Homo sapiens: one gene and its partners. The protein of the gene in region 1 purifies or fractionates together with the protein of each later gene. This does not show direct contact. Each region holds a gene or a part of one and is shown on either strand. Other genes may lie near its edges. The genes, in order: HTATIP2, RCC2 and ASAH1.

Region 1 (3,652 bases):
CTAAGACACTAAATTTTTCTTCCACATCTGTTTCTTCCCCTCATGCCAGTTTATCAGAACTCTGATTTTAATGACAGGTTAGTTATTCACAACAAAATGACACAGTTGACTAGTGAAATAAATTCAGTTTTTTTGTTGTTGTTGTTTTAGCAAGATTGATTGGAAGGATTATTATAGTAGTCTGTTAAAATACTTTTTCTTTCATCCGTTTCTTTAAAAATAAGGGAAAGATTCAGCCAATCACAAGTCTCCTGACCGACGCTGTCTCTCTCACTTAATCCAGAGCCAGTAAAAGGATAATTTGATTAAACTGAGACCCTAATTTATTTGGCTTTAGTTCTGGATCAACCTCTCCTTAATAGAGTGCTGTCGTCTCCAATTGTTTGATGAAAATTAAAGTGACATAAATACCATGGGACTTTTTCAATCTGATTAGTCAGCGAAGGCACATCAATACCACCCCGGCCATCAGACTTTGGCGTCCTTCCTTTCACCCGCCTCGCTAACGACTGACAACCGCTCCTTGAAGGACGAGCACCCACGCTGCTGCAGAGACCCCCACACTTAGCCCATCATCCCTGCTCAATGGGGCCTGTTGACAAGGTGCCCATACCTTTCTCCATTGCTGTTCTCTGGACAAAGCTAAATATTGTTTTATTAGCAATCAATGGCTGTTAATCCAAAACGATTTCACAAATCCTCTGAGCCTTCAAGCTCATTATAAATACGCGTTTTTCCAAGCCCACTAAATTTTGAATTTCACTTCCGTCACCCTGATGGCGTGGCCTTTTAGCTGGTGAATGAAACTCAAAAGCAAAAGGGTCAACAGCTTTCAAAGACTTAAAAATCAAACTGAAGCATGGGTCCTGATGACTGACTAGGAGGTATCACACACCAATTTTCTCTGGAGTGAGGAAGATTCTATTTACAGATGAAAGGAGCGATCTCGAAAATCTTATTCATGCCCTTTATTGTTCTCCAATAGCTCGATTAAAAAAACAACAGAAAAACTAACTAAAGCAAGCTATTTCATATCTCAGAAACACAATTTTTAGAAAAACTGTACTTAGTTTCCCTAACCATGTGGACAGACATCTCTTCTGAGAGTATTAAGTCCACATGTCATTCTGTCTTTATGATTCCATAGCCAATGTGTCCTGCTCTAAGCTAGGAATCTGAGTCCCTTCTAGAAAAAGGAATTAATTAAATAAGTTCCCACTATAAAGTCCTTTCCCAGCACCCTCTCAAAAAGAATAAACACAGTATACTACACTCAGTAGAGATATCCTCATAGGCTCCACAACATCAAAGGCAGCAAATTCTCCAACGACTCTTAAGTCTTACTAAAATCCAAAGCTACTAAGTATTTCTTCTAATCTTCTTTACCAGTGCCTGAAAACTAAAAACAACATTCTGGCTTCAGAACAACTCATCCTAACAAGGTATAGTATTTCAGTGCTGACTGATAGGACAAGTTAGCACGTCTAAACGACTCAAGAAGGTCATGGGGTCAGGCACGGTGGTCTGTGGTCCCAGCTACTCAGGAGGCTGAAGCAGGAAGATCGCTTGATCCCAGGAATTTGAGTCTAGCCTTGGCAACACAGTGAGACCCTGTCTCTAAAAAATTAATTAATTTATAAAAAAGTAAATCATGGGGATCTTTTTCCAAGAAGGGTGGGTCTATCATTCTGTAAAGGTCCCATTCAGCCCTATTTCTGCTTCAGGTTCTTTCTCCTTCACTCCCTTTCAATCCAACCCTATAAATTAGACTAGAAAACAAAGATGCTGACAAACACCAAATGGTATAATCTGAGGCACCTTTTGTTTGTGTCCTGGAGGGCATCTCCATATTTGATGTTCAATGGTAGGGGAAAGATCTTGGTTAGAGAAGTTCTGGATAGATAAATAAAATCAAGCAGATACTGAGGATTCCTGGGTCAATCTATATGTTCTTGAAAAAGTTTTCCAATTGGATATTCTTTCTTCTGTGTTTCATAGAGTCAAAGAATTTTTCAGGCCGGGTGCGATGGCTCATGGTAATCCCAGCACTTTGGGAGGCCGAGGCAAGCAGATCACTTGAACCCAGGAGTTCAAGACCAGCCTGGGTGGGAAGCATGGCAAAACCCTGTCTCTACAAAAAAAAATACAAAAATTAGCCAGCCATGGTGGCGCATGCCTGTGGTCCCAGCTACTTGGGAGGCTGAGGTGGGAGGATTGCTTGAGCTGGGTAGGTGGAGGCTGCAGTGACCGAAATCGCACTCCTGCAGTGAGCCGAAATCACACAACTGCACTCCAGCCTGGGCGATGGAATGAGACTCTGTCTCAAAAAAACAGAAAAATGTTTAAGAATTTTGCAGTAGGAAGGTGGGTTCACTGGTCACCTCCTTCTGACAGACAAGGAGGTAGTGGCCTCCAAAAGCTAACCAGCAAACTCCAGGCTCCATAGCTACTTGGCAACCAAACAGGGCCTGTGATCTGGGTCCCTTGAACCAGCTAGGACCTCGCCACTTCACAAGCCCCCTCCTAGACATCAAATAAACAACAGAGATTAGAACAAGGGTGGGCAAACTTTTCCTGTAAAGGATCAGACAGTAACTATTTTTAGCTTTGCAGGCCTCTGTTGCAACTATATAGCTCTACCATTATGTTAATAGCACAAAAGCAGCCACAGATAATACATAAAGTAATAAGCATGGCTGTGTCCCAATACCACTTTATGTATAAAGACTAAAATTTGAAGTTTTTATATTTTCACATGGTATGACATTATTCTTTTGAATTTTTTAACCAGTTAAAAATATAGGCCGGGTGCGGTGGCTCACGCCTGTAATCCCAGCACTTTGGGAGGCCAAGACGGGCAGATCACGAGGTCAGGAGATCGAGACCATCCTGGCTAACACGGTAAAACCCCATCTCTACTAAAAATACAAAAAATTAGCTGGGCATGGTGGTGGGCACCTGTAGTCCCAGCTACTTGGGAGGCTGAGGCAGGAGAATGGCGTGAACCCAGGAGGCGGAGCTTGCAGTGAGCCGAGATTGCGCCACTGCACTCTAGCCTGGGCAACTGAGCGAGACTCCGTCTCAAAAAAAAAATATATACATAAAGACATTCTTAGCTCACAGGGTGTACAAAAACAGGTGGCAGGCTGTATTGCAAACCTTTGAATTAGAAGAGCAGATCATTAGAATCAGAAGCCATAAGGTTCTAATGAGATGGGCCATGAGATGCCTAATAAATGTCACAGTGGCCACACTAATCACATTAATGACATCATCCACTCAACAGAAAACAAGAACCTGGACTTCTGGAGCCTACTACGACCAGGTGAGGAAACAAATGAAAAGGTGAAACCACATCGAACCACCTTGAATTCACTAATCAAATCCCTCTTTTGATACAAATAAGGGGAAATGAACTATTCTCACTGGCATCTCTAAGTTTTTGTGCTTCACTCCAGGACAATACAGATCTGGTTTTCAAAGGCTATTTCAATCTTCACTAGCAAACAAGTTACTCACTAAAGCAAGGCAAAGGTTATCCAGGACCACAGTACCCAGAAAACCAGCAAGTGAGGGGAATTAATACACCCCAATGCCTCTTGAAAGTAGGTTCAACAAGAAGGACAGGGTTGACTGCATCAGGATCTCCCAA
Region 2 (3,652 bases), on another chromosome or scaffold:
AAATTAGCCAGGAATGGTGGCAGGTGCCTCTAATCCCAGCTACTCAGGAGGCTGAGGCAGGAGAATAGCTTGAAACAGGAAGACAGAGGTTGCAGTGAGTTGAGATCCCACCACTGCATTCCAGCCTGGGTGAAAAAGTGAAACTCCGCCTCAAATAAAAAAAAAAAAGATACACAAACAAAAGATTGCACTGCAGTTTATCTAAAGTGACCTTTAAAGAAACAACCTAGGCCAGGCGTGGTGGCTCACACCTGTAATCCCAGCACTTTGAGAGGCCGAGGTGGGCAGATCACCTGAGGTCAGGAGTTTGAGACCAGCCTGACCAACATGGAGAAACCCTGTCTCTACTGAAAATACAAAACTAGCCGGGGCATGGTGGCGCATGCCTGTAATCCCAGCTACTCGGGAGGCTGAGGCAGGAGAATTGCTTGAACCTGGGAGGTGGAAGCTGTGGTGAGCCGAGATCACGCCATTGCACTCCAGCCTGGGCAACAAGAGTGAAACTGTCTCCAAAAAAAAAAGGGGGGGGGGGCGGGGGGGACAACCTACTGATTAAAAACGACTCACATCCCCAGTATGGGGCACCATCTACTGACCTGGAAAGATGTCTGTGATGTTATGTTAGATAAAAGCCAAAAGCAGAAAGTGCTTACCTTAAGGTGCAGGTGAGGGCGGCAAAACATCTACGTGTTTAAGATGTGTCTATTTAAATCACGGGAGAAGTTAACATAGGAGGCAGTGACAGGGAACCCTGCCCTGGGACCAAGGACCCTTTGGCCAAGGTGCAAAGCCCTCTTGAAGAAGCAAGCAGATGTCTACCTGGGATCAGTTCCTAGCCAAAGCCAAGCGTCAGGAAACTTGAGCATAAACACCCCTTCCATCCTGGTGCGACTCTCAGGAAGTGAGAAAAGCCGAGCCTCACCGTGTGGTTAGCGCCACAGGCCACGTCTCGTACAACCACGTTTGGTACAGGCAGAATCTGTCCATCTTTCGTCTTCTCAATGAAGATGGCCACTCGCCGGGGAACTAGTTCACAGTCGTACTCTATCCGCTGTGCCCGGGCGATGAACTTCCCATCTGAGTTGTGTCCTGTAGAGACCACAGAGCCGGCCATCAGCAGCAGCACAAGCACAAGGGACGTGTCAGTGTGCTCACACGGACTCTGTAGTGAGCCCCGGCAGCACCCCAATCTGGCCCTTCTGGGCCTTAGACCAGCACACGTTGGTCAACAAAGGCAGCATTTCCAATCTTAGGCACAGCACAGTGAGTGGGTCAGTGAAATCAATTTTGTGAGCTAAGACCAGTTATTTTTTAAAAACGAATAGAACAGAATGACAAAGAATACTCTACACATAATAATGGCACCATGTTACAACAATTCCAGGTAAGGTATTATACGTTCAGATTGGGTTGCAAAAGAAAACTTATTTCTTACAATGGGTTGCAGTCAAAAAAGTTGAAGCTGCTGATCAAGGAATGGTCTATCAAGTAAGATCTCTACCCCACTGGAGGGACCACAAGGAGCCCCTAAAAGACCAAGAATAGACAGAAAAGCTCCATACACAATCCCAGGCCTCTGTTTTTATGAATTACCAGTAACCTAAACGTATGGTTACGGGTGGCTAAAGCCTGCAATTCCCACACTCCGAATGACCCAGGGACTGGTTCGCAAAGACCCAGCTCAGCACACCACACACCAGAAGCCCGGCTGCTCCAGTCCTGAGAACACGCCAGACACCCAAGCTCCTGCAGCCACCTGCAGCAGCAGGGCTGCTAAGTAGTTTATAGTTTTAAACTGCTCCTGTTCCCACACTGTGATCATCAGTTTGGTTGGGCACGGTGGGCCACGCCTGGAATCCCAGCACGTTGGGAGGCCGAAGTGGGTGGATCACCTGAAGTGAGGTGTTTGAGACCAGCCTGGCCAACACAGTGAAGGCCTGTCTCTACTTTAAAAAACAAAAACAAACAAACAAAGATTAGCTGGGCGTGGTGGTGGGTGCCTATAGTCCAGCTACTTGGGAAGGCTGAGGCAGAAGAATCGCTTGAACCTGGGAGGTGGAGGTTGCAGTGAGCAGAGATCATGCCACTGCACTCCAGCCTGGGCGACAGAACAAGTTTCTGTCTCCAAAAAAAAACAAACAAAAAAACTTGTTGTTATCAGTTTGTAAACTAGCCCCCGGCTTGTGGCTAATCCCCCTCCATACGGCACGCTGGTGTGCACCTCAGCCCTTATTGGTATGTGTGTTTTTGAGCACTGTGCTATTTAAATACAGTCAGCCCTCCATGGCCACAGGTTCAACCAACAGTGGTCCAAAAATATCTGGGGGGAGGAGGAAACAAGGAAAAAAAAAAGATAATACAAACAATACAAGTAAGACCATACAGTAGAACTACTTACATAACATTTACATCACATTAGGTACTGAAGTAATCTAGAGATGATTTTAAGTGTACAGGTTACATGCAAATACTATGCCATTTTATATAAGGTACTTGAGCATCTTAAGATCTTGGTATCCACAGGGGGTACTGGAAGCAATCCCCCAGGTTACCAAGGAGCAACTGCACCCTGGAATCACAACTACGCTACACACAATAAAACTCCTGGGCTTGTTTACAGGGCGCCTTATAACACTCATCTCATAAGCAGGTTCTATTTTTTTTTTTTTTTTTTTGAGACAGAGTCTCGCTCTGTCGCCCAGGCTGGAGTGCGGTGGCATGATCTCTGCTCACTATCACTGTCTTATGACAGCAGTTCTCTACTGTTGACATAATCCCTTCCAGTGGAACATCTGTCCGTTTAAAAGTCTGAGGGTCTTGGCCGGGCGCGGTGGCTCGCGCCTGTAATCCCAGCACTTTGGGAGGCTGAGGTCGGCGGATCACGAGGTCAAGAGATTGAGACCATCCTGGCCAACATGGTGAAACCCCGTCTCTACCAAAAATACAAAAATTAGCCAGGTGTGGTGGCGCACGCCTGTAGTCCCAGCTACTCAGGAGGCTGAGGCAGGAGAATCGCTTGAACCCGGGAGGCGGAGGGTGCAGTGACCCGAGATCGCGCCACTGCACTCCAGCCTGGTGACAGAGCAAGACTCCGTATCAAAAAAAACAATAAAAGTCTGAGGGTCCCCACTAAGAAATTCCCCCACCTTCTAGGCTACGATGAATGTAAGAGCATCACAGTAAATAGAATGCATTTCCGGATATGTCGCTACTTTTCTCACAAAAATGGTATTTTTAAACACTTGCACTCTTCCGGACAAGGTTTCAGCAAGGCAGTCAACAAATGATTAGAGTCCTTTTATTTGCTATCGACACAGTGGATACTGAACAGACACAACTCCCAGACAGGAGAGGAGGCACATTTGGTGACTGCTTTTTCCACCTCCTTTAAAGAGCTGCACACATCTGCTTTCTCCAGAAGTACAGGACAGAAGCTACTCCAGAAAACATCGAACAGCGGGCTTCCCTGTCCCTCTAGAGGGGTGACAGCTCTTTAAAATAAAGTTAAATGGCATGGCTGGGCACGGTGGCTCATGCCTGTAATCCCAACACTTTGGGAGGCCGAGGCGGGTAGATCACTTGAGATCAAGCGTTTGAGACCAGCCTGGTCAACATGGTGAAACCCCGTCTCTACTAAAAATACAAAAAAAAG
Region 3 (3,652 bases), on another chromosome or scaffold:
GTGCACCTAAAAGGGAGTAGAAACGGCCTCAAACATGGAAGGCACCTCATTAAATGTTCAATGAATTGGGGCAGTGAGACCAACAGAGAGACATAATCAATCAGTAAGGCAGACATGTCACTGAAGGCCAGAATGATGCCAGTGATGACAGAAAGGAAGACTTTCAGACAGCAGGCCATTGAAGAAAGAGCTGGAATGAACACTGGCCCCAAACAACATCCAAACTGGTTACCTCTAAATTGCTTCCTGCCAAATACTGGCCTCTTTCTACATAAAGGCGAGTAAGTCAAAAGAACTTAGTTTATTACAGTTTCACGCTATCTGGGACAGAGGCTATTTAAAATACATCGTTTAGACAACAACAGTACAACGTAAGTAATTTGGAATGTTGCACGAACTGAAAATGTCATCTTGATATCACTAGATAGAGTTGTACTGTTTCCCCCTACAAACAGCAGGCTACTTTCAGCGAAAGGGCAGTGTAGGAGAAAAAGATCACCACCCCCTATACCTGTTCCTTCTTTTCTCTGTTCTGTACACTCTGAGGGGTCTGTGAGCTGTTATTATGGCTTTCTCACAGGCCCATTTAAACACTGAGGATTTGGAAAGACCAAAATCTAGACTAAAAATATTAATGTTAAACACACTGAATCATGACATTGGTCCTCCTCTTAGGTGTTCCAATCCTGTTTTGTCCTCGACAGCTTTGTTGTGCCAAGGTTTATTTTGAGAACGTTTCACATATGAGGGCCTATGCTTTTTTGTTACAATATAATTTGGTGGTTTATATCCAGGCACCATAGAGAATCACAGGTCATTTCAAATACAGCCCTTACATTTGTCAAAGATGAGAAAAACCCTTCATGGTAGACAGGAGAATTGAGTGGAGAATGAAAATCCTTTCCTTTTTTTTTTTGAGACAGAGTCTCACTCTGTCGCCCAGACTGGAGTGCAGTGGTGCGATCTCGGCTCACTGCAAGCTCCGCCTCCCGGGTTCACGCCATTCTCCTGCCTCAGCCTCCAGAGTAGCTGGGACTACAGGCGCCCGCCACCACGCCTGGCTAATTTTTTGTATTTTTAGTAGAGACGGGGTTTCACTGTTAGCCAGCATGGTCTCGATCTCCTGACCTTATGATTTACCCGCCTCGGCCTCCCAAAGTGCTGGGATTACAGGCGTGAGCCACCGCGTCTGGCTGAAAATCCTTTTCTTTCCGATGATTTTGATAGTCTAGCGACGGGCATTTGAATCGGAAGATATTTTCATATTTGTCCAAGATCTCAGCCAAATGCATAATAAACAAATCTGAGAAACAAACCTCTGTCTCGGAATGGGAAACATGACTTAAGATTTTATTCACTATCGTTCGTTTATGAGCAATTATTACATACAGAAAAAACTTCACAAAGGTCAAAGGGAGTTTTGATCATCTGATGTTTACTCACGTTGGTCCTGAAGGAGGATAGGTTGATTTTCTGCAGTCCTCTGTCCACTGAAAAGCAAAGAAAATTAAGTTTCAGAAAATAACAAATGCTTGCCAACGGAATAAGCAATTTCAAAAGTAGTTAATCTGTGAAGACAACATCAAGTCTGATATTGCTCTTTTATACGTTTCAATGCCTCTTAAAATAAGTCTTTTCTTTCCAAGAAAACTTCTAAAATCCTAAACCATTAAGTGGATTTTCAGTTTCAATTCAATTTGTAAAAGTGCTAGGTGTTATAATTTGGCTCTAATATTTCAAATATATTGAGTAACGAACAAATGTAACAAAGTAGATGGAAAATATTTATGTTAGAGAGGCTGACTTAGCACTAAAAGTAAATGACCTGATAGGATGTATTATCTGCACTTACCAGCCATGTGTGTTGCAACCTGTCCTGGGATTTGCCTCCCAAACCAGATTTTCAGGGCACACAGCACAGGGCCCTTCATCATCTTTCCATGGTAACTTACCATCCCAGCCTCATCTCCTGACACTCCCCTTAGTATTTATAGCCATACGCAGGCACTTCCTATCATCTCTCACCCTTCCATGCCTGTGTCTGTGCTATTCCCTCTTGCTAGAATGCCTTTTCCCCACCTGGTGAACTGCTGGTTCTAACTTCCAAGATTCAGTTCAAGCATTTTCTTTCTTGTGAAGTCTTCATCTATCTTCCATATGAAAATATTCATACCCTCCTTTCCTCCCACAGCATTTGTGCACACTCTCATCAACATGTTTATGACACTGCTTTATAATCATCTGTTTGCGTTCCTTGTCAATACCAGACTCTGCGCTCCTTGAGGTGAGGACGGCCCCCAACACTGACGTCACTGCCTGAGACAAGGAATGAACAGACTCTTTTAGGGGAAGTTGTCCAAGCTTAGTGGCAAAATGGAACCTTCTCCTAAACTTATCAAAAAAAGTCCACACAGATTTATGATTCTTTTGTTACTCATTCAACATATCAAGTGTCTTTATCTCCTTTCCTCTGGAGAACCAGTTCTGTGAAAGTAAAATAATTGTTTTAAAAAAGTACAAATCCAAAATAAGATAAAGTAGAGTAGGTAAGAAAACTCTTGGAACTGTAGCTTGAGCTCAGAAAACTCTTGGAACTGTAGCTTGAGCTCAGAAAACTCCTGGAACTGTAGCTTGAGCTCAGAAAACTCCTGGAACTGTAGCTTGAGCACAGAAAATGTATCTGCTGGACAGCTGTGTAAGAATGGAGGTCTAGCACCTTGTTTTAACTTTTGATAACATGGGGAATATATAAAGTAGGTTGACATTACCTGTGATTCAAACATTAGCTGTCAAATTTGCCTTACCACACTGTAAGTTTCTCACATATGTCTGGCTTTGTCTGGTAATTTTGCGTTGAATTCATTAAGAAACAATATCAAGTCTGTAGCAAAAGCTAATTTCCAAAGCCATTCGTGTTCAGTAATAGTGGCTGGGGGCAGCTCGTTTAGAAAAACTTCAGTCTCAACTGTGAACTCAAAGACTGCAAAACTTTACAGCTAGCAAGCTATCTAATGGCTCTGTCACAAGAGACATCAGGATATCCGGCCTCTATTTCTGATAATTCACAGAAATGATGACGGTTATATCCACAAGAGCAAATGAAGCTCATGGTTTATATTGCCGGTTCAATAACACATGTGAGATTCCAATATTTTCCACAAAATATCTGAAAAGGAATACTATAATAAATAACCATGAGCTTTAAACACCTCGCATGTTCACAAGTTTTGTGAATTTGCTCAACTCCGCCTTTTTCTACTCACAAATATTTTTACTACTGTCAATTTTTATAGATCTTAGCAGATTCCATTCCAGGTTATACTCAATCATTATTTTCTCAGCTTCTTCGAAAACATCCTCGCCTGTAGTTGTTTTATACAGATGATTCAGAGGCTAACTCTTCAGTCACTTCAAACTTGGCAATGATCATCTAATAAATATCAACAACTGATCAGTTATCGGTATGTTGACAGTCAAGAAAAATCACTCAAAAATCACATGCTTTGTTCTTTAATTGATATTGATGTTCTTCCCAAAGTCCAGGACAAGGGTTCTCAATGACATGTAAAATAATTTCATTTTCCCTGGACACAATACTTCTGCTACTACAATCGAATACAATTTAGGTAATCCACCATTGGTAAATGGCTTT

What was found.
Region 2: the proteins of HTATIP2 (region 1) and RCC2 fractionate together in Homo sapiens (co-fractionation; one large-scale study listed by BioGRID). This does not show direct contact.
Region 3: the proteins of HTATIP2 (region 1) and ASAH1 purify together in Homo sapiens (affinity purification with mass spectrometry; one large-scale study listed by BioGRID and IntAct). This does not show direct contact.

Annotation. Positions count from the first base shown.
Region 1 is NC_000011.10:20,370,099-20,373,750, reverse strand, and holds part of HTATIP2 (protein HTATIP2), read right to left. Parts: intron 1-3,652. UniProt on the Homo sapiens protein: Represses translation by preventing reactivation of elongation factor eEF1A. May also inhibit nuclear import by competing with nuclear import substrates for binding to a subset of nuclear transport receptors.
Region 2 is NC_000001.11:17,415,558-17,419,209, forward strand, and holds part of RCC2 (protein RCC2), read right to left. Parts: intron 1,090-3,652; coding exon 923-1,089; intron 1-922. UniProt on the Homo sapiens protein: Multifunctional protein that may affect its functions by regulating the activity of small GTPases, such as RAC1 and RALA. Required for normal progress through the cell cycle, both during interphase and during mitosis.
Region 3 is NC_000008.11:18,074,098-18,077,749, forward strand, and holds part of ASAH1 (acid ceramidase isoform a preproprotein), read right to left. Parts: intron 1,491-3,652; coding exon 1,444-1,490; intron 1-1,443. UniProt on the Homo sapiens protein: Lysosomal ceramidase that hydrolyzes sphingolipid ceramides into sphingosine and free fatty acids at acidic pH.